2 linked regions of the Homo sapiens genome follow. The protein of the gene in region 2 interacts with the protein of the main gene of each other region in a pairwise test. Each region holds a gene or a part of one and is shown on either strand. Other genes may lie near its edges.

Region 1 (3,500 bases), on a different chromosome or scaffold from region 2:
TTTATTTACGTAAGCCCTGAACTAAACTTCACAGAGGGAACCATTCCCTTTAGTCCCAGACATTATAAACTCGGGGGTCGGGGGGCACACAGAGGCTGAAGGTCAGTGTTGAAGAGCTCAAGCACTTGGGCCTTTGGATGTTCTACATTTTTACAAATGCTTATTTCCCCACATAAGCAGCTACAGGTGTAATGTTGAACTTACTGTGATTTGTAAAAATAATATGATTAATTTTAATCATCTTACCCTAGGTCGCATCCCAGAAAGCTTAAGAAATTGTGTGAACAAGGAATTCTTTGTCACATCAGCGCCTTGGTCAGTAATAGACCAGCAAGCAATTCATCCTGAGCTCAATGGTGCCACATACAGGTGAGAAAAGGAACTGACTTTGTCTCAGCTTGTGAGCACCACGGCCCCGGGGCCAGGGAGAGAAGCCCAAACTTGGCGGAAGCTTAACCTCCCGCAGATGCTAAGTCAGGGTCAGAACAATCAGCCTTCTCAGCAGGAACTGTGTACACCGCCCCCATTTCTTCCAATGCCTAATTTCATGGAACAAACAGAAGCTCCTATTTTAAAAGGGGGTGTGTTCGGTCAGATGTGATTGACCACAGGTGCTAGGAACTGCCTTTCATTCTAAAGCCATCTTAAAACCAGAAGGCTTCCCAGTCACGTGTGGTGGCGCACACCTGCAGTCTCAGCTGCTAGGGAGGCTGAGGTGGGAGAGGTGCTTGAAGCTGGGAGGTGGAGATTGCAGTGAGCCGAGATCACCCACTGCACTCCAGCCTAGGCCACAGAGTGAGACAATGCTGCTACCCCCCGACCCCACCCCACCACCAAAAAAAAAAAAAAAAAAAGGGCTTCTCAAAGAGAAAGGTATACGTAGATAAGATGTTCAAGTGCAAAGGCCTGTGAGCAAGTTCATTTTCCAATTTGAATCTTATGTCCACAGAAGGCATTCTGGTACAGTCAACTCAGGATAGTACAATCAACTCAGGATGATGACCTTGTCCACACACTAAAAATGATACCTGTAGTTTGGGTCAGCTGAGAAACTGGAGCCATGTTTGGGAACGCAGAGTGGGGGAAAGACAGGAGCCCTCACAGGGAGAAGGGGTTCCTTTTGTGGTATTTTCCATGCACGAATCGGTTTTCTCCCACACCCCCCCCCCCATTATTGCTGGCTTCCCAGGAAAATCAGTAGCCCCCTCATGCATAAATGAATGAAGTTGCAGCCTTGAATCTTAAGAAAAATTTTTGCATATTCTAAACCAGGGTTTCTAGCTCTTGGCAATAAGTATATTTGGGGCCAGATCATTCTCTTCATTCTCTCGTAGGAGGCCTGGCCTGTCCTGTGCATTGTAGGACGTTCAGCGGCATCCCTGGCCTCTACCCACGGGATGCCAGTAGCACCTCCCACTCCCACTCATGATGATTGAGAATGTCTCCAGCCACATGTCCCCTGCTGTAGCCACAGTGACGACCAGGGTGCATTCAGTTTGTGTAATGAAGGCTCTGACACTCTTGAAGAAGCTATGCCGGTGCTTGCAGGTCACATGGCTGTCTTCACATTTCATCCAGCCCCGTCCTTTTGGCCCTCAAAAGTATTTTGAGCCTATCACAGCACCAGATTCCCCTGTTGGGTGGAGCTGGGGGCCCACCTCTTCCATGTCTCCATTGTTATTTATCCTTCACGTAAGCTGGGGCTCTTAGGCCCCCTAGAACAGTATGTGTGCACTGAGGAAGGGACCCTAATGACCAGAGTCCTTCTGAAGGTCTTGGTGACAGGATGGCAGGCCAGGAGCTGGGGGTGGGGTGGCTACCATAGTGAGATGCCTCCTCCTCTACCTGGATGGATGATAAGTCTGTGTGAATACACTGAGTCCCACTTTGCCCGAGGACCCTGTGTTCTGTGGTTGGCGAATGCAGTGTGTCCTCACACAGCACTTCGTGCTTGCAATATAAAACCAGCCCGAGCCTGGGCGTTCCGAGGAAGGCGGGCCCCCAGCCAACAGCCAGCAAGCATACCACTTCCCATCTCAGGCCATGGGAGTATATAGCCAACCAGCCTAGAAAGCTTAGTGAGTTCTGGCTGCCATAATTGAGTAGCATAGACTGGGTGGCTTGTAAAGAAATGCCTTGCTCGCAGTTCTGGAGGCTGGAAGTCTGAGATGAGGCTGCCAGCATGGTCAGGTTCTGGTGACGGCCAGGCAGCAGACCGTCAGCTTCTTCCCACATCCTCATATGGCAGAGAGAGGGCCAGAGCACTGACTAGACTCCCTTGTGTAAAGGCACTGATCCCATTCATGACCCAGTCATTTCCTCACCCAGTCACTTCCCAAGGGCTCTACCTCTTAAGGTCATCACCTTTAAGGTGTGGGATTTGAACTGGAATTAGGGGGATGGAGGGAGACAAACATTGAGTCCCTAAGGGTCCATTGTACTCTGTTGGGAAATCATTTTATCAGTCAGAAGTAACTGGTGAACAGTTGGGAGTCCATTTTGTACAAAGTGGGTTTTTTTAAATAGTATAATGTATCCACATTCATAAATAGTATGGGCTAATATCTTCTTATCTAAAAGCTACAAAATTAGTGGCCCCGTGTTTGGATTGGACTAGTTTTGTTTTTATGAATTAGTTGCCAGTGTTTTATATAAAAATTGAGACTTCTCCTTGCTTTGGGGATAGGGAAGATAAACTATCCCATAAAAATCGTTAGCCAGGGCCGGGCATGGTGGCTCACGCCTGTAATCCCAGCACTTTGGGAGGCTGAGGCGGGCGGATCACGAGGTCGGGAGATTGAGACCATCCTGGCCAACGTGGTGAAACCCCGTCTCTACTAAAAATATAAAAATTAGCCGGGTGTGGTAGCGCACACCTGTAGTCCCAGCTACTTGGGAGGCTGAGGCAGGAGAATCACTTTAACCCAGGAGGCAGAGGTTGCAGTGGGCTGAGATTGCTCACGCCACTGCACTCCAGACTGGCGACAGAGTGAGACTCCATCTCAAAAAAAAAAAAAAAAACTATTAGCCAGGCCTGGTGTCTCTCGCCTGTACTCCCAGGACTCTGGGAGGCCTATGATGGGGCATCACTTGAGCTCAAGAGTTTGAGACCAGCCTGGGCAGTCTGGCAAAACCGCATCTCTACAAAAAAATACAAAAACTAGCTAGGCGTGGTGGCTCATGCCTGTGGTCGCCACTACTTGGGTGTCTGAGGTGGGATCACTTGAGCCCAGAAGGTCGGTCAAGGTGAGCCATGTTCATGTCACTGGGCTCCTGTCTCTTATGAAAAGGCCAGAAGTAGAAGAGCCAAGAGCTTGGCAACTCTGCCCTGAACTTACAAGGCCCTATTTCTGTGTGTTCCTTAGATATCCGCCAGGCATCGTGGGTGTGGCTCCAGGAGGACTTCCTGCAGCCATGGAAGGGATCATCCCTGGAGGCATCCCAGTGACTCACAACCTCCCGACAGTGGCACATCCTTCCCAAGCGCCCTCTCCCAACCA
Region 2 (3,500 bases):
GATGAGATTACATGTCTTATGCCTTTCATTGAAATCTGTTTTCCACACCTTTTCCAGGATGGCAGTGGTAGGGTATTCATTTTGGAACACTATATTTTAGGCAATGAATAAGAACCTATTAGTGTATGTTTTCTTAATGTTGGAGGCCAAAAAAGAGACAGGTGGCCTTCAAAAATTAATAGCTCTTAAAAGGCATAAGGAAATACAACTTATGGAAATGTTCTTGTCAGACATTGGTGAGAAGCTGTGTTTTGGGGGTGCTGTTAATTAAGAACATTTCCCTGTTGGCGTAAGTGTCTCACATTTTTGCCCTTGGTGCCCAGCTCACCATGAGCACGGTCAATTCACAAGGTAGTTTTTATAAATAAAGGTTTTGGGCAAGCTGAACGTGGTCCAGAGAGATATTAATGAGAGGGCAAGGGGGAAGAGTTAATGAAAACATACTTCCTGGTGGAACATAAACTGCTTTTTGGAACTGGAGAGGCTTTAAAATTATTTTCCCAAAACCCTGTGGCGTTTCTTTTCTGGAGGCAATGAGATGGGGAGAAATGACAAATGGCTTCGTTTTATTATTTTCTCCTCTCTCGTTCTCCATATTTTTGGTAGGGAAAATTGGACATTTATTTTGGCCATTTTCCTTCTATTCGCAGAATCAATTACATTTTTGGTGTATTATGCGTGGTAAATATACTCAAGGATCCTCTGGCTTAAAAGCAATGAGTTGATTATTCGAACATCCCTTCTTTAAAGGCAGTTAATTGCATGGAAAACATAGGCCCCCATTGTCTGGTCCCTTTAAACTTTTATTCTGAGATTTGTTCCCAGGGTCTGGGCTGTGTAGTGTAGTTGTTGTTCTGCATCATTGGCTGTTGTATATTCCAAGAAAAATAATTTTAAGCTTTTAAATCATACAGTGATTGAAATCTTGCATTTCAGATGGACTGAAATCTCAGGCCACTAGTGTTCAAGGATCTACAACATTTTATAACCTATATCACTTAAAGGAGGCTTGGCTAGCTTTGGGAGAATGCTGCCTTCTAGAGGGTTATGTAAATCAGGAATTGTGGCTAATTTTTTCTTTTGTAGATTGCTGCCTGTTCTGGAATTTTTTTCTTCCACTCAAAAGTGTGATGGTGCCATCTAGAATTACCTGTGCTTTTCAGTTTTCAGTGGAACAGGAGTTAGATCACATCTCTTTAGTTGGAGGAAAATTTAGTGAGTGTTCTAGTCTACATGTCACTTCGCAGTTCCCCCATAGTTACATAATTGGTGTTGTGTGTGTCCATCGTAGAAGACATTTGATGCTCATTTATTAAATATGCTTGCTGGCTGCTGCTGCATCTTTGTTCTGGACAGACAAATTACCTTTCTCACACTGAGCTTCCACTCTGGGGAATTAAGCCTTCACCACTTTAATTAGCTTGGAAGTAGGGGGTTGCAGTTCCTAATAGACTACAGGCTTTTTGTAAGTTAGGGAAAGGGTGAAACGAGAACTTCCTGGGAGGCTCAAAATGTCATTTAAAAACCATAACAACCTAATATGTATTATTTCATTTTGGTAATTGCAAACAGATTGTATTTGACAAGTGTGTGGATTTCCATTTCTGACTTAGACATTGAAGCCACCCTTGCATTGAACTATGTTCTTTTATCTATCACAGGTCATTAACACATTGCATGTATTGAATCACATATTTGTGTAGCTATTAAGTGACATAGCAGATAAGAAATAGTGAAAAATATGTGAATATTTGTACATAGAAATTTTCATATAGACACACACCTATAGGTAGTACCAATATGGGTGAATATTTTTCACATGGGGATATCGGAATAATAATGATAACTGCCAGTATTTGTTGAACTTTTATTAAGGGCCAAGCACTGTTGAAAGTGCTCCCATATGTATTATGTAATTATCATAACAGTGTCATTATCCCTTCTTTAAAGATGAGGAAACTGAGACACAAGCAGTTTAAGCAACATTCCAAAAGGTTACACGGTTAAGCATATGAACCCAAAACTTCCTAGGTAGGAACTTGTCTTGGAATGTCCCCGCTATTTAAAAAATTCAAGATCCCACTGCTGGGCAAGATGTTACATTCCTTTTGGAAAGACACTTGCTCTTAACAGAGTTAAGCAATTAATTGTAGTACTTTACACCAGAAACTTTCTGAGCGTCCATTTACTGTCTCATTTTCTTTGCTAGTAAAACTGCAGAAAATGTTATGCTTTAGTTCTTCACTGCCAGAGTAAGTAGCATAGAAAGCCTCTATCAAGTCACAGTTGGAAAGTAATCTAATAAAAGAAGATTAGTGAATGTGGGGAAGACAAAAGCAGTCATGTTTGAGTTTAATATCTCTCAAATTTAGCATTTTAGCTAAGATGCCCGTTTTTATTTCTTGCAGGTCTGCTAAAAGGTCAGAGTAATGCAGAATGCGTGCCTTCATCTCAGATTTGTTCATCACAGGTGGATCCCATGTGTCTTCAGTAGACAAGTCACCTTTGTAGCTAGCACCAGTGCCAGCTCCATGCCATTGCACCTTCTTTAGTCTTGATTGCCCTTCCCGCATTTATTGGTGTATTAAAATGACTGAATATGAACATTAAGGACTCCATGAACCTGGGCTAATGGGAGACTGTAGAGAAAATGAAAAAAGATCCACCAGAGGACATCTTGGGGAGGGGGAGGGAGCTGGGGGGGAGGGAAATGACTAATGAAGCTAATTAAAAGAAGCATTCAAATCTGCTTTCTACCCTCATTAACAATTAGCAGGGCACTGGCCAGAGTTTGTACCCTGTGTTTTACCTTAACAACATTCTATTTGCTCTTTGTATATTTAAGTGTTGTAAGGAAACGTGTTTCAATCAAAACTGACCATGAGATAAAGGAAAGAGATGTGGCTTTTGTGATATTCTATCACAAACACTTATTGTATCTCTGTAAAATACAATGTATGTATGCATGTAAGTGTTTTTGTCCTAATGTTGCTACTCCCATGGCAAAGAAAAAAAAAAGAATGAAAAAAAGAAAAAAATTTGGAAAAAAAAATCAGGCTCATAGCAGCTACTGTGTAGAAAATTCCCCCTACTTCTAATTTGCTGAATGAAGAAAAAAAAAAATCTTTTATTTGTGATATTTTCAGAGACATTTGCTCTAGTATGGTGTATTTAAATAATAAAAACTTAAAAGAAAAAATATTTAATGGTGTTTGGGTTTAAACACTGCTTTTTCTCTTCTGTATTTTGAAGAAATTTAGTTTTTATTGTTGTTGAATAACAAGCTCACTTTAAATTTGAAGGAGTTGAGGGAGGTGGAGTGTATATTTATTTAGCTCTGGGCCAGTAAGGTATTCTTCAAATTACTTAACCACGCCATTATTGGCAGGGGTACAAAGTAGTTTCTAACAGGGTCCTTTCTATAAGTCAAGAATATTCTGTTAACAGCATTTCGTTACACTTCTATATCACAGTAAGTCTTTTGTGTTTATAAATACTTG

Evidence for each region. Proteins that work in one complex are often made in the same cells at the same time.
Region 1: the proteins of LMO4 (region 2) and CTBP2 interact in binary tests that used the Homo sapiens proteins (3 or more experiments, as listed by UniProt).

Annotation. Positions count from the first base shown.
Region 1 is NC_000010.11:124,989,564-124,993,063, reverse strand, and holds part of CTBP2 (C-terminal-binding protein 2), read left to right. Parts: intron 1-251; coding exon 252-369; intron 370-3,365; coding exon 3,366-3,500. UniProt on the Homo sapiens protein: Corepressor targeting diverse transcription regulators. Functions in brown adipose tissue (BAT) differentiation. Isoform 2 probably acts as a scaffold for specialized synapses.
Region 2 is NC_000001.11:87,342,380-87,345,879, forward strand, and holds part of LMO4 (LIM domain transcription factor LMO4), read left to right. Parts: intron 1-2,408; coding exon 2,409-2,417; 3' UTR 2,418-3,500. UniProt on the Homo sapiens protein: Transcription cofactor. Plays a role in establishing motor neuron identity, in concert with MNX1, acting, at least in part, to disrupt LDB1-LHX3 complexes thereby negatively modulating interneuron genes in motor neurons.